Linked DNA regions of Homo sapiens: region 2 is linked to region 1. The links come from fine-mapping of genetic effects on gene expression. A gene starts in region 1. The other region holds a variant in brackets. All regions are shown on one strand. Distances are from middle to middle.

Region 1 (16,984 bases):
TGACAGAGAAGCTGTCTGTCTAGTATCCCATTATCCCATTCCCTGGTTGTATTATAGTTTACATAACCAACCCTTTCCAATGGACATTATGATTGATTCCAGTCTTTTGCTATTGTAAACAATGCTGCAATAAATATTCCTGTACACACATCTTTAATCACTTGTGCATACATATCTGTAGAATAAATTCCAAACATGGCTCCTTTTAAATGCTTTTTTAAAAAAAATGGTAGTGGAGCAGATACTACTAGTGAACCCCCAATATCCATTCTTCCTTCTTCTATAGGAATAGAACCCTAAATGAACACTCAGAGTAGAGGCTATGTTTCTCAGCCTCCCTTGGAGGCAGGTCAGCGGAAGTGGTGAATGCAACTTCAGGGCATGTCCCCCCTTCCCCTTTTCTCCTGGCTGGCAGGAATATGGATGTAATCACTGGTGTGGAAGCAGCCGTCTTGGACCAAGAACATAGCCCAGGAACAGGCCAGAAGGAGTTGGGCCCCTGATGTGAACCTCCATATGGAATGCTTGTATCCAGACTTAACCTGAGAGAGAACAAACGTCTATCATGTTTAAGCCACAGTTGTTTTATATTTTCTGTCTCTTGCAGCCAAACTTTTACATTGTAAATACAAATAGTGTCAAATGTTCCTTTAAAGAGAATGCCTATAGAGAGCCTGAGTGCCTGTTACCTATTACAAACTCTTAGTGTTATCCAAATGTTAAATTTTTGTCAGATTTGTAAGAGAAAATTGTAATTCCTTATATACCAATAAATACTAATTCCTTGTATGCTCATAAATAAGCAGAAGGAGGCTGGGCATGATAGCTCATGCCTGTAATCCCAGGTCTTTGGGAGGCCGAGGTGGGTGGATCACCTGAGGTCAGGAGTTTGAGACCAGCCTGGCCAACATGGTGAAACCTTGTCTCTACTAAAAACACAAAATTAGCTGGGCGTGGTGGTGCATGCCTCTAATCCCAGCTACTTGGGAGGCTGAGGAAGGAGAATCACTTGAACCCAGGAGGCGGAGTTTGCAGTGAACCAAGATTGCGCCAATGCACTCCAGCTTGGGCAACAAGAACGAAATTCCATCTCAAAAAAAGTAATTAATTAAATAAAATAAAATAAATAAAAATAAAAAATAGGCAGAAGGATAAGATGAGAAAGGGTGGGAAAGGAAAGAAGAGGGCAGATTTTCATAAAGTTTAGTTAGGTATGTCCTTGACTATGACAAATAATTGAGTTACTTGTTTTCTGTCATGAGAGACTGGGGCAATCTGGCTAAATATGACAATTTAATGCACCCTCTGATTTGAAGATTTTTTTTTTGAATTAAAAAGTAGAACAGAATCTTCTCTGCAGGTAGTTTATAAACTCATTACATTTTATATTTATGGTGTAACATTCTCCTTTTCTTATGCTCACAATCTGTTATGGAGCCTAACACTGCCAGGCCCAAACAAGAATATATTGATTGATTTCTTTTTACCTCCAGAATTCAGTGTTGGCAATAAATTTGAGGACATTTTCTTGCCTGGCCCTGTTGAAAGAAAAAAAAATACGTTTTTTAAAAATTCTATGAACATCATATAAAAGGGCTAAATTCAACTGCCAATGACTCCTTAACAGTCCTTATGGCTTTTAAAAGCAGTGAGCACACACATACTCTTTGACCCAGCAATTTCAATTCTGGTATCTTATGTCAAGAAAATAATCAGACAAGCAGCCAAAAAAGCATGTGCAATAATGTTTGTTCAATGTCATTTCATAAATACAGAGTTGACCAAATAACTATGGTATATCCATAAAATAAATTCCAGTTGGCCCTTAAAATGATGCTGTAGTCACTATTTACCTCTCTCCATGGTATTGGTTAAAAAACAAAACATTTCAAAAGAGTAGGGATAGTGTGGATTAAAAAATGCATGCAAAAATCTGAGAGGTGTTTGAAATGCCATTCATCAAACATGAATCTTGATTACATGTGATTTGGTGCAGTCTCTCATTTTTACCAGGTTTGGGATTAGGGTTAGGTGATTGAGGCACTCAATCTTAGCTGCAAAGCTTAAGGATTGCCAAAATAAACAAACAAAAACAAAACAAAAAAATCAACTTTCAGTTATTATGATAAATTAAATGTTAATGCAATATATTTTTATAAAATTCCAAATAAATGCAGGAAATTCTATAATGAACAAAATATCAAAATTGTAAATACGGACAGTCTCTGACCCTGTACTTGTGTGACCCTGAGAGCCAGTGCCTCACTCTACTCACCCAAATCCTGGCCCACAGAACTTGTCTCTATTTAAAATTCTGTTATTTCATTTATCATGAATTTTTTACATTAATTTATATATTTAAAATAGTGAATTAAAATATTGCTTATTTTGATTACTGAGTTTTTGCTTTCCCCTTAAATTTTATGCATGAAGCTAGAGCTTCACTGGCCTTACCCTAATCCTTGTTCTGATTTCTATACTTTGAGTATCATTCAAATTTCTCAGTGAGCTGGTGTAACTGTTACAATGAGAAAAATAATAAAGATATATTCATTTTGGGGATAAAGGACACCCAGGAGTTTATATTTAAAAATGTGCCCGCAGCAGAAACAATGGACAACACATTCTATTTTGGGCTACTCATTTAAATATGTGCCTCAGGAATCTCAAAGAGCCATATATAAGAGCTAAATATCCCGGAAGCAGAGCAGCAGATGATTAAGAACACAGACTTTGGACAAGCCTGATTTTTGAATCTTGGTTTGGTATTTACTTATGTGTGAGCAAGTTCATGTATCATTCAAAAAACATTTATTGAGTACCTACTATGTGTCAGGCACTGTTCTACGTGTGGGGGACAGGGCAATTTTTAAAAAGACAAAAAAGAACAAAAACTATTGTCTTCATGGAGCCTACATCTTAATTACTCAGCATCTCTGAGCCTCTGCTTCCTGTTTCATAAAGTGGACACACCTCTTAAGGCTTTCTTGAGGATTCAGTGGGCAATGGATTTAACCAAGTGGGGTGCCTGGCTTACAGACCAGCTCAGTAAGTGGGAACTATTATGTGCTAATATTTACTAATTAGCATCTGATTTTAGTTCCAGTGGTTATAAAAACAAATATTTAAAAAATTATGTCAAAGCTTATAAAAGAGAAAAAAATGAATAAAAACTATAACATTGACATTATACTTTTTCAAATGACTGAACATTTTTTCACAGGCATTAAATTCATTCTCACGGGGGAAAAGAAAGATCGGTGAAAAATTGGTGACAACCTGTGGTTGATGAGTATTTGGAATTTGGATGGCTAATACTAAAGATTTGTAGATTTTCTCAATTTTACACTCTGTACTCATCTCCACTCTTAGGATTCTGATCACCTCTTTCTTGTCACATTTTCACTCCTTTGGTCCTTCTATCTATCTAAATTCACTCTCCTTCCCACTCTCATTCCCTTTATCCTTAAAGTCTTTTTGCAATGAGCATCTTTATCCATGGGTTCAAGGACTTTTTCACTCACAGAAAAACTGGAAGTTCTGTTCCTTTAAACCAATTGCTAAGAGCAGATATCTGCTCTTATTCTGTCTCTATTATATAGTTCATATAACATGTAAATGCAATCAGCAGTCTCCAGATGTTGTTATACTTCTATACTTCCATATGCATGAATTCCTGTATTGATGAATGAAAGGTTGGTGAACAAAAGGGAGGGAGAGGAACAGAACCAGTTATTGTTAGGAAGGGATTATAAAGTCCCCTTTCCAATCAGAAAAAATGTTGAAGTCAGTGGATGTCTTTGTTGTGCGAAATAAAAATAGCATGATGGCTAAACAAAGGCTCTGTACCAAAAGAGAGGGAAAATGTTATTGGATTGCATAGCAAATGCCTGAAAGTTCACATCTTAAATACACGTTCACATCCAACTTCCAATAGATGAAAAAGATCAAAAGCTCAGAAATATCAGGAATGTAAAATGGTGGTGTATAACTGCCAGCCATCCATTTTAGAGGTCGCATAAGCTAAATGATTAAGAACATAGACTCTCTCTATGTCCCTTAATCCTCACACTTCAATTTCCCCATCTTTCAAGAGGAATGATGCAAATAGTATCTACCTTGTGGGATTGTTAGGTAAGTTACCACGTCCAGCCTTTGGATGGCCTCAGTTGCATAGTATGTGCTATGGGAGTGTAAGCACATGGAGAGGTGCACTCTGAGGGAGGAATGTGCCTGGTGTGTTTCAGGAACAGTAAGGACACCAGTGGGCCTTAAACACAGTGAACAAAGGGGACAGCACCCCAGATGAAGCCAGAGAGACAAGAAGTCCAAGATCACGAGGGCCCTGGAGGCCATTTTCTCAGTGAAATGGAACCATTCAATGAATCACTCTGATGCTGAGCTGAGAAGAGACTGTAGAAAGGGAAAAGGGTCACACAGGGAGATCTACTAGGAGACTACAGCCACTGGGAGGCAAGAGATAATGCTATCCCTTCCTTGGGATAGCAGTGGAAGTGGTGAGAGGTGGTCCGATTCTAGATGTGTTTTGACAGTAGAGTCTACAGGATTGGCTGATGGTTTGGATGTGGAGTATGAGATAAAGAACTGATTGCAGAAAGGATGGAGTTGCCATAAATGGAGACAGAGAAGGCAGTGGGGGAAGGGGCACTTGGGAAGATCAGAGGCTCATTTTGGAACATGTGAAATTTGAGATATATATTAGATATCTAAAGGGACATGGGTGTAATGTATACTGTTCTTTCAAGTGAACCCCATGCTGGTTGATTTAATTAATTGTTGTGTTCCTTTAATAGCTGTACAATTATATGTGGTCTCTGAGTCAGGTCTCTTGACAAGTGTCATTGCAAGGGTAGTAGGAATGGCACTATGGAAAGACCCCTGGCCTTTGGGGGCAGGTAGGTTTAACTCCTGCCTCTGACTCTTATCCACTCTTTCTCTTGGGTCTAGAGAATTATGCTTAATGCACTGTAGAATCTTCTATCAAGTATGAATAATAACACCTTCCTTACAGGCCTGGTGCAATTTTCAAACACAGATAATATATGCAAAGTGCCTGCTCATAGTAGGCTTGTGAAGAAGTGATCCCTTATACTTTTTTCAAACTAGATATTGTCCAGATCCTTCCTCTTTCTGGCCCACTCTGTCAACTGCCGCCATTTGAAATGGGAGCATAACTGACAACTACTTTTTGTAAGAAACTCCCAATCAAAGTTCTTGAAACCTGGTCATTGGAGAGGAGTCTACCAGCAATATCAGTGCAAATCTGGGGGACCTGAATCAGCTTCATGTAGAGTCTTAACATTCTGAGCTCCAGGGGAAGTGGGGAAAGAGGAGTGGGATTTGATAAGGCCCAGTCCTAAGTTTCTAAACCAACTCTAAATAAAATGAATAATAACACTGTCTACCAGATATTATTCGAATCAGTTTATTTGTTTTTTTGCAACAACCCCCTCTAAAACCCAATGAAAACGAATTTCCAGATGATCTCAATGTGAGATAAAAAGCAATGTTTATCTTCACATGCATATGAGGATTTAGACTGGTTCTCTCAGACCCAATGCCCTTCCATTTTTTTTTCCCACCTCCTCTCCGCCTACCTTGGACAAATACTAGGAAAAGGGGCTGTGAACTGTGTCCTTGGATGGTGTGGGGAGATCACAGTTAGCAATTTTTTGTTTACCTAAAAGCCAGGAGCCACTGGGTCCTTGGCCTGCTTAGATGCACGCTGCCGCTTCTGACTAGGTCAGAGCACAGCACAATGATGAGGAAATTACTTTCACCTTGACCTTTAAGGCACTGCTGGCGTCAGGCTATTTAGTATGGACGCTTCTGTTGACATTTCTGACTGCCCCTTTTGCGAAGTGAAAAAAAACAAACAAACAAACAAAAAAAAAAACTGGAGGTCAAGAGGAAGGAAGGATGGGTTAAGGAGTCAGCATATACAAGTCAGATAATGTGAAAAGTATTTTATAAGAGCTGCTATCGGGATGTTGGTTATTACCAAGGAAAAATGTGTCATCCTTATCCATCTATAACTACTGAACAGTAACTAAGGAAAGAAATTCACTCATCCTTTCTGCTTTTGCAAACCTCCTGTTTGCAGGAGCTTATCAGGTAATGTTGTCTGTCTGGACTGTGAATCAGATGCACAGTTCACCCACAAACATAAATACCTATGAAAAAGAAATATAATTTCTTTTAGACTCACCCAGAACTTGCAAGCTTTAAGTACATGGTCTGTGAAGTCAGGAGAGGAACTATACTATTGGCTGAAATCTAATCTTTAACTTAATTGGCCAGGAAGACAAATAGCAGGATTAAAACACACGAATAATAGTAATAATACCTATTACTTGTTTAGAGCTGGGCACTGGGCTAAGTGATTTATGTTTTATTTTATTTAAAACTCAGACAAGCCCATAAAGTAGAAACAGCTCTCCCTATGATGAGGATGAGAAAACGAGGCTTCGAGAAATTACTGTAAAGAAATTCCCCAAGGTCAAACAGCTTATAGGAAACAGAACTCAGACTAAGACAAGTTTATTGAACCCTATTTTTCTATAATTTTAACCCATCCTTTATACATACAATTGCATAGTTCTGCAAATATGCCTAAAATTGCAAAATGTAACTGATTAAAGTCTTCAGCAGAAATTTTATAATAGAAAATTTTAATATTTCTCTGTGAATTAGTGACTTTATGTGTTTCTATTCCCCACTATTTCTACTTCTCTTTTTAAAGACATAGAAATATATGTATGTATAAACTTTTTAAAAGCTATGCACACACACACACAAACAACCTGTTTGTGATTGTGTATATGAGCTGTGAATAATCTTCTGATGCCCCCTCCCCCCCACCCTTAGGGTCTCTTTCACTCACATTGTCTATATATTTTCCAATTTTTATCTTTCTCTTTCCTAACTGATCTCTCTTTTATAGGCCATAATATGAAGCTAAATTATATTCTTATTTATCGTGGTCATCTAAAGGAGTGTTTGCTTTCTGTTCCAGGTTTTTTTAATGAGACTAAATTAACTTTTATATTTTGTGGGTTTGCAGGCTTAGTCTGCTTTTATAGTATATTATTTGTGTCCACATCTATCACTTTTATTGTAAAGTCTTTACTGGGCAGGGAAAGCGCCTTTCCTATCTTTGTATGTTCCACAAGACTTAACACAGAGCTTGTGATAAACATGAATAAACGAAATCAAGTAATTAAGGACTCAAAAGCCTGGGCCTGGCAGTGTTTCCATAGCAATTGGTAGCAGGAAGCGACGAGGCTGAGAATCACAGACCATCTTCCATAAACTTGATTCTGTCTCCAATTTTGGTCGCAAGTTGCTTGTAGGCCCACCAGACACAGCTGAGGGGTGGGAGGGGGCATGCGGAGGGGCGGACACTGAGCTGAAACCTATTTTACCTCAGCGAGTTTGGATCCAGGAGCCTTTCCAACCTATCGTTCGGGAAGGCGTTGTGGGAAAAGTGGGCGGAGGTGCCAATCGATCCTCCAGTCTCGGCTCTATCCTCCCCCAGCCCGGTTCCCGGTCATCTCAGGGACCGTCTGGTAGCTGATCCCGGAACGCAGCTGGCCAACGGATAAGTGCGGGGCACCCGCCACCCGCGCGGACCCAGGAGCACCTCCCCTACCGCATCCCCCTCCTCCCCACCCCCAGGTTCCCTCGGCTCGCGGCCCTCCGCGTCCCGGGCTCCCGCCCCAGAACCTGTGGGCAGATGTTTCCTCCACGCAGTACCCTCCCGGGGCTCTGCCTCCAGGCTCGCGTCCCAGCACCCTAGGCAGAGGTTTCCCCCACTCTGTCCTCTCCCGGGGCTCTACCTCCAAGCTCCCGTCCCTGCCCCTGGGCACAGCTTTCCCCTACTCTGCCCTCTCCAGGAGCGCTATCTCCAGGCTCCCACCCCAACCCCCCGGGCAGAGGTTTCCCCCATGGCCCCCCTTCCGGGGCTCTACCCCAGGTTCCGGTCCCTCACTCCCGAACACTCCGGGTGCCCTCACCCAGCCAACCCTTGACGCGCTTCCACATACCACGTGATCCACACAGCTCACTTTGATCTCTCGGGGTGACCAAGCTTAAGTTTCCTTATCTGAAAAGTAGGGACACTAGTCTCCATCTCGTTTACTCGGGATGGGACAAGACGACCAAAAAAGAGAGGATTCCTCATCAGGTTTATTACTCGTTGCCATTCTTGCAATGATTACCGCCCCCGTTGCTGTGGTTGGGGGAGGCGAGCAAAGGGCAGCGGCTGCGAGCGCCCGCCCCCGCCCCACCCTCCCAGCCCCGGACAGCGCAGGCTGCGGCTTTTCGTCCTCCACTGAGTCCTGCCGGTGGCCCGAGCCCGGTGGCCTCCCGGCGACCCTCGGCGCGAGGCGACATGGCAAGCGGCCACAGCCTCCTGCTGGAGAACGCGCAGCAAGTGGTGCTGGTGTGCGCCCGCGGCGAGCGCTTCCTGGCGCGGGATGCGCTGCGCAGCCTGGCGGTGCTGGAAGGCGCCAGCCTGGTGGTGGGCAAGTAAGTGGCCGGGCGCGCAGGGTGGGGACCGCCACGGGCGGAGCTGGCCGCTCTTCCTCTCACTGTGCACTCTGGAGGGAAACAACGCCGTGAAAGCGTCCCTGCACAGAGATACACGGGCAAGCCAGCCTTTGGGGTACCTGTTGCTAACACGCTCTGCTGCTTGGGGTTGTCATTCCGTCCAAAGAGCTCAGAGAGGAACACCCCATTGGAACGCATCAGGGTCCTGCCTCTGCTGGTAAAATATCACTGTCCAACCATCAGAAGGGGTTGAGGTCCTCCCCAGTGCTTCTTAAAGGGAGGCCAGAAGACCACCTTTGTCAGGGTGGCCTGTGGTTATTTTATTCTTACGGCAGATTTCTGATTCCACCTGCGTCCCCCACTCCCTATCCCTAGAATTTTAGAATCAGCATCACTGGGGCTGGAGTTCTGAGACCTGAATTTTTCAAAAGTACCTTTCACATCCTCGTGATCTCGTACACTAAAGCTTTAGAACCACGGAGAACATTTAGACGATAATGGCCCTGAGTGATAATAAATCAAGATTTGACCATCAGAAAACAAGATATTTCTCTTACTCATCTGAGCTTCCTGCCAGATATGAATAAAAGAACAAAGTTTGAGGGCGACCTGGGGTAGCAAGGGAAGTTGGATGAGAATTTGAATCCAAAGCGTGCCATGGGACCACAATTGCACACGATCAATGAGTCTCACAAACTGACCACGGCTTATCTGAGGCAGTTTAGGGTTGTGCAAGAGCCCAGCTTTTAAGGGACTGTGGGTTGGTTTAATTTTATTTATTTATTTATTTATTTATTTATTTATTTATTTATTTATTTTTGAGACGCATGAGCCACTGCGCCCAGCCTATTTTTTGTTTTTTTGAGACAGGGTCTAGCTCTGTTGCCCAGGTTGGAGTGCAGTGGCATGATCTTGGCTCCACCTCCCAGGCTCAACTGCGATCTCCACCTCCCAGGCTCAAGCCATCCTCCCACCTCAGCTTGACAAGCAGCTGGGACTACAGGTGCACGCCACCACGCCAGGCTAATTTTTGTATTTTTTGTAGAGACAATGTCTCACTGTGTTGCCCAGGCTGGTCTTGAACTCCTGGGCTCAAGCCATCCACCTGGTTTGGCCTCCCAGTGCTGAGATTACAGGCGTGAACCACCACGCCCAGCTTGACTGGTTTATTTTTAATTAAGGGATGAAAACATTCCCAATTTACTATGAAAATATTATTTAAAATTTTGCTTAGAAAGTTGAAAAATATGTACCTGGGTTGGGACTGGAGTATCTTATAAAAATTATATCAATGCGACCAGGCACAGTGACTCACGCCTGCAATCCCAGCACTTTGGGAAGCTGAGGCAGGTGGATCACCTGAGGTTGGGAGCTCGAGATCAGCCTGGCCAACATGATGAAACCCCATCTCTACTAAAAATACAAACATTAGCCGGGCATGGCGGCGCACGTCTGTAATCCCAGCTACTCGGGAGGCTGAGGCAGGAGAATCGCTTGAACCCGGGAGGCGGAGGTTGCAGTGAGCTGAGATCTCGCCACTGCACTCCAGCCTGGGTGACAGAGCGAGACTCTGTCTCAAAAATAAATAAATAAATACATAAATAAAATGATACTAATGCACCAACATGAAGTCCTGGGTTCCAAGACATGTTCTATGTTCACATCAAAACCACAAAAAGTAGGGAAAGGAAAAGGAGGGAGCTGACTTGTGGTCTGGAAGATGGGGCTTTTTCATTTGAGTCTGCTACATTGTTCTCACAGTTTGTTGGATTTATTACAATGAAATAAATTTACAAGAATATTGAGAACTTTGCCATTCAAATATGATTAGCTCGGTACAGGATGGTGTTGTTTTTATTTTCACTTACTATCATCACTGTCTTATATATTAGGTTGGTGCAAAAATCAAGTATAGAATTGGAATAATTATCTGGTTATTTGAGATGCTTTGAAATATATCTCCCACCTCATTATCTGAATGTTTTAAGGTAAAAGTGTTTTCAGGGTGAATTATTTAGGTGATTGTCTTAAATTTTCACATCACTTCCCTTATGCAGAACCTGTGTGTTCAAGGACAACTTAATCCTGCTCTTCTTTTGGTAGACAAGAAGAACACAGGCTGTGAGTGTGAGTGTGTATAGGGAGAGGGGTACTGATTAAAAGCACAGAGAAGTGGAAGAAAGTTCCATTTCAAAGCCCAGAATTGGATGGATTTTAACAGTGTGTGTTTTTTTTTTTCCCAACAAGTATATACATACCATGGTGTGTCCTGATTAGAATGAATCTCAGTAAGATCAACTAATAGTTAATCCCCTATATGCTATAGATATATAAAATGAGTCCTGGAAAAGAATATGGTTTGAGGGACACCAGAAACTCCCCCTTCCTAAAAATAAATATCTCAGTGATTGTCTGCCATAGGGTGTAAATTCCACCATTGTGTTCATTCATTTAGGTCTCTAAAGGTATCTCATTCTTAAATTAAGTTCTCTCTCTCTTTCTCTCTGTGTGTGTGTGTGTGTGTGTGTGTGTGTGTAGATTGCAGTTAATCTTGAAGAGGCTCCCAGGTGTGGAAAAGAAGCACAAACTGTCATCCAGTTGACAATTGTCCCATCCAAAGGCTAAAACCTAGATGAAAATGTCTAAATGAACAAAACAAACAGGAATTAAAATATAGATTCATACACAAGGACCATTTGTTTTAGCACTTCAGAGGAGGGGCAAAAATGGAAAATGTTGAAGGAAAAATTGGTGGGTGTTATATTTTCCTTCCTAGAAGCCAATTAAACTGTCAGGTGGACAATGAACCTAAAATAGGACATTTTCATTCATTCACAAATATGTGCTGAGTAGTTAGATTGTGCTCAGCGTAGAGGATGCAAAAATGACTAAGACTGGTTCAGACCTCAAAGAGCTCAAAGTCTACTGGGAAACAAGACACATGAAAAGATAATTATAATACAATATGGTAAGCACAAAGGTAGAGAGATGTGTGCATGCAGGCTTATTATAAGAGACTGCTCCCCCTCCCCCTCCCCCTCCCCCTCCCCCTCCCCCTCCCCCTCCCCCTCCCCCTCCCCCTCCCTCTCCCTCTCCCCACGGTCTCCCTCTCATGCGGAGCCGAAGCTGGACTGTACTGCTGCCATCTCGGCTCACTGCAACCTCCCTGCCTGATTCTCCTGCCTCAGTCTGCCGAATGCCTGTGATTGCAGGCACGCGCCGCCACGCCTGACTGGTTTTGGTGGAGACGGGGTTTCGCTGTGTTGGCCGGGCCGGTCTCCAGCCCCTAACCGCGAGTGATCCGCCAACCTCGGCCTCCCGAGGTGCCGGGATTGCAGACGGAGTCTCGTTCACTCAGTGCTCAATGGTGCCCAGGCTGGAGTGCAGTGGCGTGATCTCGGCTCACTACAACCTACACCTCCCAGCCGCCTGCCTTGGCCTCCCAAAGTGCCGAGATTGCAGCCTCTGCCCGGCCGCCACCCCGTCTGGGAAGTGAGGAGTGTCTCTGCCTGGCCGCCCATCGTCTGGGATGTGAGGAGCCCCTCTGCCTGGCTGCCCAGTCTGGAAAGTGAGGAGCGTCTCTGCCCGGCCGCCATCCCATCTAGGAAGTGAGGAGCGCCTCTTCCCAGCCGCCATCACATCTAGGAAGTGAAGAGCCTCTCTGCCCGGCCGCCCATCGTCTGAGATGTGGGGAGCGCCTCTGCCCCGCCGCCCCATCTGGGATGTGAGGAGCGCCTCTGCCCGGCCGAGACCCCGTCTGGGAGGTGAGGAGCGTCTCTGCCCGGCCGCCCCGTCTGAGAAGTGAGGAGACCCTCTGCCTGGCAACCACCCCGTCTGAGAAGTGAGGAGCCCCTCCGCCCGGCAGCTGCCCCGTCTGAGAAGTGAGGAGCCTCTCCGCCCGGCAGCCACCCCATCTGGGAAGTGAGGAGCGTCTCCGACCGGCAGCCACCCCGTCCGGGAGGGAGGTGGGGGGGGTCAGCCCCCTGCCCGGCCAGCCGCCCCATCCGGGAGGGAGGTGGGGGGTCAGCCCCCCCGCCCGGACAGCCGTGCCGTCCAGGAGGGAGGTGGGGGGGTCAGCCCCCCGCCCGGCCAGCCGCCCCGTCCGGGAGGTGAGGGGCGCCTCTGCCCGGCCAGCCACCCCGTCCGGGAGGGAGATGGGGGGGTCAGCCCCCCCACCCGGCCAGCCGCCCCGTCCGGGAGGGAGGTGGGGGGGTCAGCCCCCCGCCTGGCCAGCCGCCCCGTCCGGGAGGGAGGTGGGGGGGTCAGCGCCCCGCCCGGCCAGCCGCCCCGTCTGGGAGGTGAGGGGCGCCTCTGCCCGGCCGCCCCTACTGGGAAGTGAGGAGCCCCTCTGCCCGGCCAGCCGCCCCATCCGGGAGGGAGGTGGGGGGGTCAGCCCCCCGCCCGGCCAGCCGCCCTGTCCGGGAGGGAGGTGGGGGGGTCAGCCCCCCGCCCGGCCAGCCGCCCTGTCCGGGAGGGAGGTGGGGGGGTCAGCCCTCCGCCCGGCCAGCCGCCCCGTCTGGGAGTTGAGGGGCGCCTCTGCCCGGCCGCCCCTACTGGGAAGTGAGGAGCCCCTCTGCCCGGCCAGCCGCCCCGTCCGGGAGGGAGGTGGGGGGGTCGGCCCCCCGCCCGGCCAGCCGCCCCATCCGGGAGGGAGGTGGGGGGGTCAGCCCCCCGCCCGGCCAGCCGCCCTGTCCAGGAGGGAGGTGGGGGTGTCAGCCCCACGCCCGGCCAGCCGCCTCGTCCGGGAGGGAGGTGGGGGGGTCAGCCCCCCACCCGGCCAGCCGCCCCGTCTGGGAGGGAGGTGGGGGGGGGTCAGCCCCCCTGCCCGGCCAGTGGCCCCGTCCGGGAGGTGAGGGGCGCCTCTGCCCGGCCGCCCCTACTGGGAAGTGAGGAGCCCCTCTGCCCGGCCAGCCGCCCCGTCCGGGAGGGAGGTGGGGGTGTCAGCCCCCCGCCCGGCCAGCTGCCCCGTCCGGGAGGGAGGTGGGGGGGGGGTCAGCCCCCACCGCCCAGCCAGCCGACCCGTCCGGGAGGTGAGGGGCGCCTCTGCCCAGCCACCACCCCGTCTGGGAGGTGTGCCCAACAGCTCATTGAGAACGGGCCAGGATGACAATGGCGGCTTTGTGGAATAGAAAGGCGGGAAAGGCGGGGAAAAGATTGAGAAATCGGATGGTTGCCGTGTCTGTGTGGAAAGAAGTAGACATGGGAGACTTTTCATTTTGTTCTGCACTAAGAAAAATTCCTCTGTCTTGGGATCCTGTTGATCTGTGACCTTACCCCCAACCCTGTGCTCTCTGAAACATGTGCTGTGTCCACTCAGGGTTAAATGGATTAAGGGCGGTGCAAGATGTGCTTTGTTAAACAGATGCTTGAAGGCAGCATGCTCGTTAAGAGTCATCACCAATCCCTAATCTCAAGTAATCAGGGACACAAACACTGCGGAAGGCCGCAGGGTCCTCTGCCTAGGAAAACCAGAGACCTTTGTTCACTTGTTTATCTGCTGACCTTCCCTCCACTATTGTCCCATGACCCTGCCAAATCCCCCTCTGTGAGAAACACCCAAGAATTATCAATAAAAAAATAAATTAAAAAAAAAAAAAAAAAAAGAAAAAAAAAAAAAAAAAAGAGACTGCACAGAGGGGTGCCTGAACCAATGGGAGGATCGGGAGAGGTGTCAGATTTATCTACTATAAAACAAGACCAATTTTTAGGTTTTAGAAACTGAGACAGTGTATGTGCCAATTCTAAATTTTCACAAAGCACCCTGAGAGCCACTCAAAGAAGCATCATCCTCCTTAAATCATCATCATTACTGTTTTCATTATAATTATACTTTAGCTCCTAAAGTAGGGTCTTGCTTGCTAATTTGCTTTACTTTCAGAAGACTCTGCAGAATTTTTCTTCCTAAATTTCTCAGAATACAAAGTAAATAAAACCACATGTGCCTATTATTTGTATCCCCTAAAAAAGTATATGTGATATACGTTCATTGTAGGAAAAGAAAATACAGATGAACAAAAAGGAAAAAGTCACTCAAACCCCATCATTAGGTGAACTAATACCAACATTTAGTGCTTCTGCTTTCAGATGTTTTCCTATGCAAATAGAATCACATAAAAATGCATGCTTTAGAAAAGGAAGCTATGCATATTGTTTTGTATTCGGGTTTTTTCACTTAGTCATAAATAGTGAAAATCTCACCATAGCAGTAATATGTATCTTTGTAATTTTAATGACTACCTTAAAAAAACACTTTTGGGGGAATGCTTTTTGTTGGTTTCCTTCAATAACTGCCCTCATTATGTCCTCAACAAAGGAACATAAGCCTTTGTTCAAACATAGGTACATCCACAGATGAATGAGAGAACCACACTGTTGAAAGGTAGATAAGCATGGGATTAGTGGGGTCAGGAAGAGGACCCAGTGCCCTCAAAATTCACCTCCTGCACAGACGGAGAATGTTAGAGATTTATTTCTTAGGTTTGACTTTGTTAAAACAACCTCTCTTAAAGCAGTGTCAGTCATTAACTCTTTGCATAAGAGCATTCTCTTTGTTCTTTCCCATTCAAGGGTCAATTTCTAATCCTGCCGGTCCTTTCCACCACCAGATTCACTGCACACTGGGTAGATTATCTAACTGGGCCAGATAAAAGCTGTTAGTGATGAAGAATTGTCTTAATCAGGATACTAAATTCTATTTCAAGACTTAATTTCTTATTCCACCCTAAGTTTATCCTCCCCAAATCTCCCACAATCATTATTTCTTTTCCTATCATAACATCTTCTCTTTCCATCCAGTTTCTTCTGCTCTTCCACTCTTACATTTTGTTAGGTTACCCCAACCACTTCTGTCCCAGTTCGGAATCCCTTATCCTAATTGCTTTTCACAACACATTCCAGCTCTCAGGTTTATAGCCCTCAATCTCCATGTTGGAAATACGAATTTGTTGTAAGTGACCAAGACCTAAATTAATAGTGGCTGAAACAAGATGGAAGTATATTTCTCTCCTATGTGAAAATCCAGACATACGAATGCAGGGCTAGTTGATTGCAATACTCCATGGGGTCCTTAGGAGCCAGGCCCCTGCTGCCTTGCTCTCCCATGCATGGCCCACTTTCTTACACTCACTCCATGACCCAAGATGGCCACCCCATCTCTAGTTGTGGTGTCTGCATTCCAGCCAGTAAGAATAGGAAGAGAAGACAATCTTACCGGCTAGACCTTAGTCTCATAGCCACACCTGGCTAGTGGGAGGTGGGGAAATGTAGTCTGTATTTTGGGTCATCATGTGTCCAGCTAAAATTTAGGGCTCTACTAGTGTAAAAAAGGGAACATTGATCTTGGGGAACAAATGGCAATTGTCTGCTACATATATTTGACGTTTAAAGTTTTTTTAATTGTAAATTTTCATGGGTACATATATATGGGGTACATGAGTTATTTTAAACAGTCGTACAATGTGTAATAATTATATCAGGGTAAATGGGGTTTCCATCATCTCAAGCATTCATCATTTCCTGGTGTTACAAACATTCCAATCGTACTCCCTCAGTTATTCTAAAATGTGCAACATATTATTGCTGATTGTAGTCACCCTGTTGTGATATCAAATACTGGGTCTTATTCACTGTATCTAACCATATTTTTCTAGCCATTAACAATCCCCATTTTTCTCCTCTCCCCTTCTATTCTTCCCAGCCTCTGGTAACCATCATTTTACTCTCTATCTCCATGAGCTCAATTGTTTTCATTTTTAGCTCCCACAAATGAATGAGAATATGCCAAGTTTGTCTTTCTGTGCCTGGCTTATTTCACTTAACATAATGTCCTCCAGTTCTATCCATGTTGTTGCAATTGACAGAATCTCACTCTTTTTTATGGCTGAATAGTACTCCATTGTGTGTATGTATTACATTTTCTTTATCCATTCATTTGTGGGTGGGCACTTAGTGTACTTCCAAATCTTGGCTATTGTGAATAGTGCTGCAATTAACATGGGATGCAGACATCTCTTTAATATACTGACTTCCTTTCTTTTGCATATAGATCTACCAGTGGGATTGCTGGATCATATGGTAGCTCTATTTTTAGTTTTTGAGGAACTTTCATACTCTCCATAGTGGCTGTACTGATTTACATTTCTAACAGTGTACAAGGGTTCCTCTTTCTCCACATTCTTGCCAGCATTTTTTATTGCCTGTCTTTTGGATAAAAGCCATTTTAACTGGGGTAAGATGATCTCTCATTGTGGTTTTGTTTGCATTTCTCTGAAGATCATTGATGTTGAGCACCTTTTCATATACCTGTTTGCCATTTGTATCTCTTCTTTTGAAAAATGTCTATTCAGATCTTTTGTCCATTTCTTAATCAGATTATTAGGTTTTTTCCTATTGAGCTGTTTGAGCTCCTTATATA
Region 2 (12,531 bases), 25 kb after region 1:
GTTTCTCTTTATGGGAAAAACAATTTAGGCCATGCTCGGTGGCTCACGCCTGTAATCCTAGCACTTTTGGAGTCCGAGGCAGGCGGATCACGAGGTCAAGAGATCCAGACTATCCTGGCCAACATGGTGAAACCCCATCTCTACTAAAAATACAAAAGTTAGCTGGGCATGGTGGCACACGCCTGTGGCCCTAGCTGCTCGGGAGGCTGAGGTGGGAGAATTGCTTGAACCCAGGAGGCGGAGGTTGCAGTGAGCTGAGATTGCACTACTGCACCCAGCCTGGCTACAGAGCAAGACTCCGTCTCAAAAATAAAACAAACAAAGCAATTTAATGGAACTTCATGGATTCGTTGTTGCTATTTGTTAAATCTTTCCCTCTCTGCCCATTCTCCTTAGCTTGGGGCTGAACTGGGAGCGCAGGCAATCAGCCACCTGGAAGAAGTGAGTGATGAAGGCATCGTTGCCATGGCAACGGCCAGGTGCTCTGCCATCCTTCTGCCCACCACAGCCTACATGCTGAGGTAAGGTCGTTTCTCACCCCAGACCAAGAGCTGCAAGTACAAGCTGTGAAGACACAGACGTCCAAAGTGCCCAGACATTATTTCATTGCCCTTACAAATCCCTTAAAAATGCAGATGAAGAAAACTCAGCTAATGAAGATGCCAACCCTGGACTGATGTTCGTAAACGAATTTCTCTGAGGAAGGAACTTAGACCCAGATTGCCTTTGAGTGGCAGGATTATTGAGGAAGATGGTGCTTTCTTTTTCTTTTTCTTTTTTTTCATGGATTTTGGAATTTTTCAATTAAAAAGAATTACTATGCATTACTTTTATAATTAGTAAATAATGAAATAGGTGCTATACTTTTAAATATATGCATAAGATGTTAAAGATATTTAGCAGTATTCAGAATCTGCATGAGCTGTTTTCTAAAGGGATGTTAGTGGGTACCATAATTGCCATAAATCTTTATAAATCCTGGGGGTGGGAGGAAAGAGGAGACATATATTTTATAAAATCTCCCCAGATATTTTGCTGTATGCTGTCTATGAATTGAATATACTTAGTTCGTCTGTTATTACTGTTGCTCTGATTCTAACCAATATGAGATCTGAGGTCTTCTGACACTTCCCATTGTACCACTTACTTATATGATATCCAAGATTGTGGTCTGGGAGGCCAGCAGTCAAGAGGAAGTTTATCTTCTCTTAGGACTAGGTGCTTTCTGTGTAGCTAGGACATGTGGTCTTTTTCATGGGGAGTGATTCTGCAGTTAAGACAGTGGTTCTCAACCCCAGGGTAATTTTGTCCCTCAGGGGACATTTGGCAATGTCTCGAGACATTTCTAGTTGTCACAACTAGGGGATGCTACTGGCATCTAGTGGGTAGAGGCCAGGGTTGCTGCTAAACAGTCCTCATTGCACAGAACAGCTCCCAAAACAAAGAATTATCCAGCCCAAGACATGAATTGTACTGAGGTTAGGTAAGACCAGGCTCCAAGTAACTTTTAGAAGGGCGAAGAAAGGAATACTTCAGTGCTTTTCTCAAATCTACTATGATTTTATATGCACATGTATGATATTATACATTTTTATTATTATTACTATTCTCTTAAAGAGTAAACACAATGTAGACTATAATCAGGAAATATCAATAACGGTTCTTGGTATGACCAACGTCTTATACATTTCAAGTGTCATCAGTCTAAGTCATCAATCAATATTTGTCTCCACCACCCAAGAAATAAGTTTTTTGTTTTTTATTTTTTTGGAAAGAAAAGGCTTTCTTCGGCTGGGCACAGTGGCTCACGCCTGTAATCCCAGTACTTTTGGGAAGCCGAGGTGGGCAGATCACTTGAGGCCAAGAGTTCAAGACCAGACTGGCCAACATGGTTGAACTCCGTCTCTATTAAAATACAAATTTAGCTGGGCATGGTGGCGCGCGCCTGTAGTCCCAACTACTCGGGAGGCTGAGGCAGGAGAATCCCTTGAACCCAGGAGGGAGAGGTTGCAGGGAGCCAAGATCATACCTCTGCACTTCAGCCTGGGCAACAGAGTGAGTGAGATTCCATCTTAAAAAAAAAAAAAAAAAAGGCCTTTCTTTAACTAGTCTTGAATCTCTTGACATGGAGCAAAAGCCTAAGACTTTGTGGTACTGGAGGGCAATTCAGCATTAAAAGTCTGAACTTTGTTCCTATACCAGCGGAGGCTGTCATCTGCCATTGCCACAGACAGGTTTAGCCTCCTATTAGGACCACAGGGGCAGTCGAAGTGAAGGCCACACTCTGCTTTCTGGCTTCTCGTTTCTATATTTTTCTGATCTCTGCATCAGGAGAGACCAGCAGGGCCCCCTGCTCTCCCCTGAACCCTCTCTTGACTCTCATTTCCAGAATAACCATTGCCTTATGCTACTTAAGGGCTTGCTTTAATCATGTATTTTATGTAAATTTGCATGTAATATTTAAATGTATTCAGGAAATATTCACCTTGGTTTTTATGGAGTGCCCTAATACTTTTACAGCCTCACTTTTTCCTCTTTTACCCCTAAGTATTTATGGAAGGGGGGGAGGGCCATTCAAATGACTTGCAGGGACATTTGAAGCTGTACCCTTTCCTCACTCTCTGTCTCTGCTTCACTCACCTCCTCTCATACGTTGTTGAAAAACATTTTAAGTGGTCCTACAAATGATCGATCATAGACTGGGAGTGACTCTAGGATGAGAATTATCTCTGCTGGACTCTTTCTCTATTGCAGCTGTTATTCCCAAATTAAATCTGTCCTCATTGCTTTAACGAGCTTTTAGGCTTTGTTTATTTTTGATGTAACACTTTTGAGATATGTCTTAAAGAATAAAGAATATTTCACCAGGGAGGTCAAGGGGATGCCTAATCCAGGAAGAAGTATAAACATTTTACACACTAAATTCTTGGGCCTTCAAGATTTTAAAGGACCTACAGAGATGTTTGAGGCAAAAAAAAAAAAAAAAAAAAAAAGAGGGCAAAGGGAGAGATGTGAATAGGAAATTGCAAAATGGAAACTAATAAAAATAGCATATTGTGGCTGGGCACAGTGGCTCATGCCTGTAATCCCAGCACTTTGGGAGGCCAAGGTGGGTGGATCACCTGAGGTCAGGAGTTTGAGACCAGCCTGGCCACCATGGTGAAACCCCATCTCTACTAAAAATATAAAAATTACCTGGGCGTGGTGGTGGGTGCCTGTAGTCCCAACTACTCGGGAGGCTGAGGCAGGAGAATCGCTTGAACCCAGAAGGTAGAAGTTGGAGTGAGCCGAGATCGTGCCACTGCACTCCAGCCTGGGCAAGAGACAGAGATTCCATCTCAAAAAAAAAAAAAAAAAAAAAAGCATAGTGTAACCTCATTTATTATTTAATTTGGGAGTCACCAAAAAGCTTATTAAATTCCAAAACCATTTGTAAGTTATATTTTCCTCCCTTTGCAAGAATGCCTTAATATGTAAAAAGATGGATGAGATAAACAATCATTAATTAAATGTTAGTCATATCTAAGTAACTGCAAAAGCAGAATGATAAAAATCAGGAGTCCTTGGATTATATATGTAACTCTACCACTAATCATTTAATCTTGAGTTTCTGCTTCTTCTTCCAGAATATGAAGGCGTTGACTGTCTCAAGTTCTCTTCTGTTCTGAACAGCTATTCTACAAAAGCTCCCATTCTAGAGACTGACATATTTTTTTCCTCCCCTTAGACTGAAACAACCTCGAGCCAGGAAGATGTTAGATGAAGGAGTAATAGTTGCTCTGGGAAGTGATTTCAACCCCAATGCATATTGCTTTTCAATGGTAATTATTTTTTTCATGTACCTTTCTGAGCAGAGTATCTACCAAGCATATAAATAATTTAAAAATATTTCACTAGCTTTTAAAACAGTATAAAAAATCTAAAAATATTTTTCTGTGAAACAAGAAAAAAAGGGGTAGACAGCAGTGTAATTGGATTTTTCTGTCCCACATAAATGCCTGCAGGCATAGAGAGAGGAGAGAAGCTTCTACATGCATTATTTTCTGATTCAGCTTTGAGTATTGTAGTTTTACAGTAACCCATTTCCTTTCTCCAGAGAATAGCATAAACTCCAAGAGGTCTTAGTAAGTATGGAAGTGAACTTCATTGTGTGCAGTAAGTGGTCTTGAAAAGTTGTCAATAAATATTAAATACGCAATCCCTATAATAAAGTAATCTTTTCCAAAGTCTAAGAATCTTTATGTATAAACTTAGATTTTTCCCATTGCAACTGAGCCAATTCCTCCTATACCTTTAACTGCCTCTATTTGTTGTGCTGTGTTGAGAAATGTTTTAAATTGCAGTTGCCATATGTCACTTTCCTCCAACACTTTTCTCTTCCTGCCTTAGCCAATGGTCATGCATCTGGCCTGTGTAAACATGAGAATGTCCATGCCTGAGGCCTTGGCCGCTGCCACCATCAATGCAGCTTATGCACTGGGAAAGTCTCACACACACGGATCGTTGGAAGTTGGCAAACAGGGAGATCTCATTATCATCAATTCATCCCGGTGAGTGTGCTTCAACTTAGCTCTTTTATATTATGCCCACTGAAGTATGCAGATGAGGCCTAAATCCCTTTTCCACTAATTATTAGTGTCAGACTCTGTCTGGACTCAGACACTATCCAGTCCCCTCTATCTTGATCCCTTTCCAAAGAGCAAATCTACTGACAGACCCTAAACAACAGGGTAGACCAAGTTTTCAAGATCTCTTCATCTGTCTGGTATTTTTCGTAGATTTCCAGATTTCTGCTCTGTTTACCTGGACTTTGGCCGGGTTGTGCCCTCTGGCATGTGTTTGTGTTTTTCTGCTCGGCTTCTGATTTTCAACTTGCTCCCAACTCTGGCTTCTCACTTTGGTTCTGATTCATTCCCTCTCTGATTTCTCATGCCGACTGGCTCCCAAAAGCTTAAACTTAGTTTTCTTGTTCCTGGTGACTTATCACTCACCCACCCATAGTCTGTTGCCACCTGGGCCTCCAGTGTAATATTAGTCTGTTATCACACTGCTAATAAAGACATACCGAGACTGGGTAATTTATAAAGGAAAGAGGTTTAATCGACTCACAGTTCTACATGGCTGGGGAGGCCTCACAATCATGGCGGAAAGCAAAGGAGGAGCAATGTCATGTCTTAAATGGCAGCAGTCAAGAGAGCGTGTGCAGGGGAACTCCCATTCATAAAAACATCAAATCTTGTGAGATTTATTCACTATCATGAGAACAGCATGGGAAAGACCCACTCCCATGATTCAATTACCTCCCACTGGGTCCCTCCCACAATGTGGGAATTATGGAAGCTACAATTCAAAATGAGATTTGGGTGGGCACATAGCAGCAAACCATATCAGGGTTTTACTGTTCTAGACCTACAAGTTGTAAATCCTATGGCTACTTGACTCTTACGAGCCCATTGCAGCCCTTGGACCTCAAGTCCTCCAGAGACACCTGCTTTAAAATTCTCTCCATGATCAGAAACCACTCCCTGTATTGGATATAATGCTGATGGTGACATTTATGTATCATTTAATGAAGCAAATATTTTAAGATCAAGTACTTAAATGATATTATTAAACAATGTTTGATTTACCATAGACCAGTTAGTTATATACGGTTTTTTAGAAAGCCCAAATACCATTGACTGGGTGTAAATAAATGTGTAGGGAATGCATTTTAAAATTAGCATTTATTGATAAAGTAATAATTTTTACTTGCACACATTGAAGTAATATTTGTTGTTTTTTTTTTTTTTTCTAGATGGGAGCATTTGATTTACCAGTTCGGAGGCCATCATGAATTAATTGAATATGTTATAGCTAAAGGAAAACTCATCTATAAAACATGATAGATTTGAAAAGAGAAGACTTTTTGACTATATGAAATAAGTCAATATAGTTATATTAAAAGTTAAAACACCTTAATATTTACAAGAATTATATCACTTAAACCTAAATGTACTTCAATGTCTTTTTAAGTCACTCAAAAAACCCAAGGGATAGATTTATTTTCATTTAACACATGCATTTGACATATAAACAGGTAAACCTATTGTGATTAAAATCACAAAACATCCAATTAGTTCACAAATATTGGTTACAAATATTCTGTAGATTAATATGGTGGGGTATCACAAAAATGCCTTTGTGGGGAAAAGTAGGCTTGGCTTAAAATTTCCATTTTGTGTCTGTATTTCACATCTCAGTTTTTAAACTATATTTAGTGAACATTGAGGGATCGAAAGAAATCTAAGTGATACGCCCCAATGAAGCTAAAATATAGCCTTCTGTTAAGCAAATAGTATTTCCTTTCCCCAAGTAGTTCATTTTCTAGATGCTTGTCAAATGAATTAATGTCCTCTGATGAAGAGTGTCCTTCCGTTTCTAAGGTCTTCTCAATCTCAGCAATAGAGCTTCCCAGCAGCGTTCAAGACACATCATTTATACACAGGCACAGGGGCCTTCCTGAAATGGGTGCATTTTTACCAACTACAATCATGTAATTTTTTTGGAAATTTTTTAAAATTTTCGATTCTTTACATTACAATTGGGTGAAACACATTTTACAGCTCTCAATAAATGTTTGCTGTCGCTCTTATTGTTGTTGTTTCCTTTCAGCCTGGAAGTAGATCAGCAGCGTTGTCTATTAGAGTTTTTAGGAAATTACAAAATTATTTGTAAAGAGTCGATAATTATTTACATATAAATGGGTGTTTTTAAAAGCCATGTAAGTTGATTTGAAATCTTTTTAAGTGTTTCGATCATCTTTATAATCACAACTGCATTACCAAACTTGGTAAGAAATGATTTGAGAAGTAAAGATTAACTCTCCAAGTGATCACTAATTTCAGTTTAATAGAGCCTGAATGAATGAGGCTTTGCTGTAGTCAATATAAAGCAACTCAAAATGCCCCTCACTGGAAGGTTAAGGGTAACATTGCACATTGTTGTCATCATGAGAGGTGACAGCATGCTGGCAGTCCTCAGAGCCCTCGCTTGCTCTCGGCATCTCCTCTGCCTGGGCTCCCACTTTGGTGGCATTTGAGGAGCCCTTCAGCCCCCCTACTGCACTGTGGGAGCCCTTTTCTGGGCTGGCCAAGGCTGGAGCCCACTCCTTCAGCTTGCAGTGAGGTGTGGAGGGAGAGGCGTGAGCGGGAACAGGGGCTGCGTGCGGCGCTTGCGGGCCACCTGGAGTTCCGGGTGGGCGTGGGCTTAGCAGGCCCCGCACTCGGAGCAGCCGGCCAGCCCTGCTGGCCCCGGGCAGTGAGGGACTTAGCACGCGGGCCAGTGGCTGCGGAGGGTGTACTGAGTCCCCCAGCAGTGCTGGCCCACCAGCGCTGTGCTCGATTTCTCGCCGGGCCTTAGCTGCCTTCCCACGGGGCAGGGCTCGGGACCTGCAGCCCGCCATGCCTGAGCCTCCCACCCACTCCATGGGCTCCTGTGCGGCCCGAGCCTCCCTGACGAGCATCACCCCTGCTCCACGGCGCCCAGTCCCATCGACCACCCAAGGGCTGAGGAATGCGAGCCCATGGCGCAGGACTGGCAGGCAGCTCCACCTGCAGCCCCGGTGCGGGATCCACTAGGTGAAGCCAGCTGGGCTCCTGAGTCTGGTGGGGACTTGGAGAGTCTTTATATCTAGCTCAGGGATTGTAAATACACCAATCAGCACCCTGTGTTTAGCTCAAGGTTTGTGAGTGCACCAATCAACACTCTGTATCTAGCTGCTCTGGTGAGGACGTGGAGAGTCTTTTTTTTTTTTTTTTTCTGAGACGGAGTTTCGCTCTGTCGCCCAGGCTGGAGTGCAGTGGCGCAATCTCGACTCACTGCAAGCTCCGCCTCCCGGGTTCACGCCATTCTCCTGCCTCAGCCTCCCGTGTAGCTGGGACTACAGGCGCGCGCCACCATGCCCGGCTAATTTTTGTATTTTTAGTAGAGACGGGGTTTCACCGTGTTAGCCAGGGTGGTCTCGATCTCCTGACCTCGTGATCCGCCCGTCTCGGCCTCCCAAAGGGAGAGTCTTTATGTCTAGCTCAGGGATTGTAAATACACCAATCGGCACTCTGTATCTAGCTCAAGGTTTGTAAATACACCAATCAGCACCCTGTGTTTAGCTCAAGGTTTGTGAATGCACCAATCGACACTCTGTATCTAGCTGCTCTGGTGGGGCCTTGGA[G/A]AACCTGGGTGTGGAAACTGTATCTAACTAATCTGATGGGGATGTGGAGAACCTTTGTATCTAGCTCAGGGATTGTAAACGCACCAATCAGCGCCCTGACAAAACAGGCCACTAGCCTCTACCAATCAGCAGGATGTGGGTGGGGCCAGATAAGAGAATAAAAGCAGGCTGCCCGAGCCAGCATTGGCAACCCGCTGGGGTCCCCTTCCACACTGTGGAAGCTTTGTTCTTTCGCTCTTTGCAATAAATCTTGTTACTGCTCACTCGTTGGGTCCACGCTGCTTTTATGAGCTGTAACACTCACCACGAAGATCTGCAGCTTCACTCCTGAGCTCAGCAAGACCACGAGCCCACCGGGAGGAACGAACAACTTCAGACGCACCATCTTAAGAGCTGTAACACTCAGCCCGAGGGTCCGCGGCTTCATTCTTGAAGTCAGTGAGACCAAGAACCCACCAATTCCGGACACAATCACAATGGGGTCTCTGGAGCTCTGAACCTCATGCGATTATTTAAGAAGTCTTGAGACAGTGTAGGGGGCACACAGTTGCTGTGTGTGATGGCTCCCCTGTGACCAGTCACCTAGGCACTGAACATTTGGGGCGCAGGAGATACACATAAAAGCCAAAACGGAATGTTAGGTCGAGTCTTCCCTGGAACTCAAGCAACACAAGATTAGATTCTTCTATTGAAGAAACAAGAAGGAGAAGCACATCTGATTTTTCATCTAGGAGGCACTCACTTTAAACAAATAGCATTCATGCCTTTTTTGAAAGAAGACAGAAAAAGACATCTACCCAAACTGCCCTAGTCCTCCCAGGCCAGCGTGCTGCAAGCCCGTGCAACTGACGGAGTTTGCTAGGAATGCAGAACCTCTGGCTGGACCCAGACCTGCTGAGTCCGAATCTGCATGCTAATAAGCCCCGGGTGATTCACATGCACATTAAGGTCTGAGCAGCTCTGAGTTCTAAGCCCTAATCACACCAATCTTCACACTGTTCCTTAGGGGACAGTGAGCTGCTCAGGGCCATGCAATACGGTTCCCTCTGCCCAGAATGCTTTCCTTCTCTTCCTTACATGGGAAACTGGAGCTGGACGCCCTTCCCCACATTCCCACATCTCTATGATAGCCTTTGTAGCATTGTAATTTAACTGTCTTTTGTATGTTAGACTAATGAAGTCTACCCTCTGGGCTGAAACTAATGTTCTCCAACTATTTTTTACATTTACATTTACATTTACAATGTTTACATTTAATAAATTAATACTCTCAACAAAAGTAAGCAAAAAGGCAAAATGAGTTGGGAGCAGTGGCTCACGCCTGTTATCCCAGCACTTTGGGAGGCCAAGATATGTGGATCCCTGGAGGTCAGGAGTTCAAGACCAGCCTGACCAACATGGTGAAACCCCATCTCTACTAAAAATACAAAAATTAGCCGGGTGTGATGGCGCATACCCGTAATTCCAGCTACTCGGTAGGCTGAGGCAGGAGAATTGCTTGAACGCAAGAGGCAGAGGTTTGCAGTGAGCTAAGGTAGCATTATTGCACTACAGCCTGGGTGACAGAGCCGAGACTCCATCTCAAAAAAAAAAAAAAAAAAAAGCAAAATGAACCATAAAGAGAACCATAAAGTTTAATAAAAAGCAATCCAGTGACCAGACCCAAAAATCAGACACAGGTTTAAAGCAGTATGAAATGTATCTGCTTTTGAATTTTGCCGGTTGTAATGACTTTTTTTTCTTTTTCTTTTCTTTTTTTTCTTTCTTTCTTTTTTTTTGAGATGGAGTCTCACTCTGTCACCCAGGCTGGAGTGCAGTGGCACGATCTTGGCTCGCTGCAACCTCTGCCACCCAGGATCAAGCAATTCTCCTGCTTCAGCCTCCCGAGTAGCTGGGATTACAGGCACCTGCCACGGTGCCTGGCTAATTTTTGTAATTTTAGTAGAGACAGGGTTTCACCATCTTGGCCAGGGTGGTTTTGAAATCCTGACCTCGTGATCCACTCACCTTGGCCTCCCAAAGTGCTGGGATTACAGGCATGAGCCACTGCACCCAGCCTGTGATGGGATTTTATGCATGTGGTAGATTGTCAGATACAGGCCCATGGATCACGTCAAATCACATGCCCATGCCCTTGAGTGTTACCCTCCCAAATTGACTCTGGGCCTGGAACGTGACTCGCTTTAGCCAACAGGACATTAGCGAACGTGGCACAACAGGGACTTGAAAAGCCCTTGTTCTTTAGGGTTTGCCTCCTCCAGCTGCCCTGAGACAACTTGTGACAAAGACCAGGTGAGCCTGCGGGGCTGGGGAGGAAATCCTGATACCTCCAACTCTTTTGTTGCTAGCCAATGGGAAAAAGAGTGTACTGAGTCAAGCATATTGTTCTTAAAACGGTTGACATCTGTCAACTGAATCCTTCAGAAGCTTGATTAACTGCTGTTAGAGGCGCTTAACTTTGCTATAAATACCTAAGAATAAAGCGACACCATAAGGCAATTGAGACTTAGTTTATTCCATGTTTCCCTTGAAGTTCCCTTGAAGGCGTGTGCTGTCAGTTACTAATAGAGCTGTGTAGAAAACTCAGTGACAAAGTGTCATTTTGACCTGGAGGGCTGCAGGGGCTGAAAGAATCCAGCATTCCCCAAACTGGAGCGAAGAGCACCATGAGACCACTGGGGGTTACTGGCTCAATGGCAGCCCACGGATGACAATGCACAAACCTCATTTGTGTGTGTTCACATTTTGACAAGGAATAGCACCAAGAACAACCTTTAGGTAAACAGTCTCCTCAGCACATTTTTTGCTCCCTGAATTGCTGTGTGCAGCAGTTTTCACTTCAGTTTCCACCTGACAGGTTGTAAATCTAAAGGGTGAAAACTCTATTGTGAAATCCACTGTTCGGCCCATTTTAGATGGCAATTAGGTAGGCAAGGTGGCAAGTGTGTCTGTCCTCCTCTCCACCAGCTGTGGTTTTTAGAGCCACGGTTTCAGACCACTTGAAGGGCCTTGCACATATATGCACACACTGGTGCAAAGTCACAGAGCTTAGACTTGGGAAGCCAAGAGGTCATGTGACCCATCCTTCATCTGGACAGATACACTTAAGCCATCCCTGAAGGTCCTTTATCTTCTCGGGGAAAAAAATAGATGCAGTAATACACTCTAGGGCTCCATCTGACCTTTATCAATAGGACTTATTTTAATGATTACCATTACAGAAAGGAGGTTGGTTAATCCCCAAAGATTCCTTATCTGTGAAATGAGGAAGGTTACAATAAGAATGTGAATAGAGTACTAACACCAAGGAAGTGAAAATACTAACCTCAAACTCCCATGTAAGCATTTGGGGGATACGTGTAGTGATAAGTACAAAATACACAGTTTAATAAGAGCCACCCAAATAGCAATCTTTATATTCATTCCTTATCTCCTTTGCACATGAAACTCCTTGTTGGTTTTAATCACCTCTACAATTAATAGCTGAAGACCCTATTGACTACTCTTTACTATGATCCAATTAATAGAAGAAAAAAGCAGCTTAAGGACAAATTATGACTTAAAATGGTTATTTATGAAGGCATATTAAGGCATATCATGCAAAGTAAAATTAGCCAAAGAAAGTCAACTGGTGGAGAGCTTGTTGAAGCAAATTTAAAAAAAAAAAAAAAGGTTAACAAAAGTCTAATGTTTTTAGAAAAAATTGCTATCAATCTGTTTCCAAATTTGAATTCATCTAATGCTAAGAGTAAAAAACAGGCACATACAATTGTGGTTATTCTTCTCACCCTTAAGAGTGAGTGGCCTGTTGAAACTGTTAAGAAAGAAAGAAAAGTTTTATAATCTGAAAATACCTGGTGGGTCTTGAACCACGACAACAGGAACACAGTGCTGAATTTAGCAACTATAATACTGCCATCAGCCTAACCAACGTAGGCTTTAGAAGAACTGAATGATACAATGGATTGATCTACCTAGGAAAGTTCTCAGGTCTCTCCTTCAGCCTAGTATTGCTTTGTGCTAAACTGACTGCCCTCTCATCTGCTACTTCATGACAAAGCCCATTAAAGGTCCTCAGACTCCGGGATTTTGGTGGATTTCTTGTGCAGAAATTGCAGTGAAAAGGCTGTTGGAGAAAGAGGTCTTGATTCTGGAATATGCTCCATTCTGTATTTTTCAATGTATGGAGCAGCTACTTCCCAAACCTGAAAAGCAAGGACAAAACAAAGTTGAAATATTGACGACATTGTTTCCACATGCTATTAAACATCAACTTCATCCGAAGTCAAAACATACTCTATACATGACCAGACACAGCTGCT

Evidence for each region. PIP is the estimated chance that this variant, and not a neighbour inherited with it, causes the effect.
Region 2: its variant is fine-mapped to the expression of AMDHD1 in stomach (GTEx, PIP 0.97).

Annotation. Positions count from the first base shown.
Region 1 is chr12:95,934,986-95,951,969 of GRCh38, forward strand. AMDHD1 (amidohydrolase domain containing 1) reads left to right here and starts at 8,346. Exons shown (of 9, transcript NM_152435.3): 1 at 8,346-8,550. The coding sequence starts at 8,414. It overlaps CCDC38 (coiled-coil domain containing 38), which reads right to left and starts at 7,629. Exons shown (of 16, transcript NM_182496.3): 1 at 7,446-7,629; 2 at 1,488-1,538. The coding sequence starts at 1,524.
Region 2 is chr12:95,961,959-95,974,489 of GRCh38, forward strand. It overlaps AMDHD1 (amidohydrolase domain containing 1), which reads left to right. Exons shown (of 9, transcript NM_152435.3): 6 at 397-521; 7 at 3,728-3,821; 8 at 4,390-4,550; 9 at 5,798-6,762. The coding sequence ends at 5,885. It overlaps HAL (histidine ammonia-lyase), which reads right to left. Exons shown (of 21, transcript NM_002108.4): 21 at 10,704-12,414. The coding sequence ends at 12,274. Among named protein-coding and RNA genes, the nearest start is that of AMDHD1, 25 kb to the left of the region's middle. RefSeq lists enhancers at 4,194-4,678, 8,147-8,792, 8,793-9,438. The variant G/A (reference allele first, on the strand shown) is at 8,210.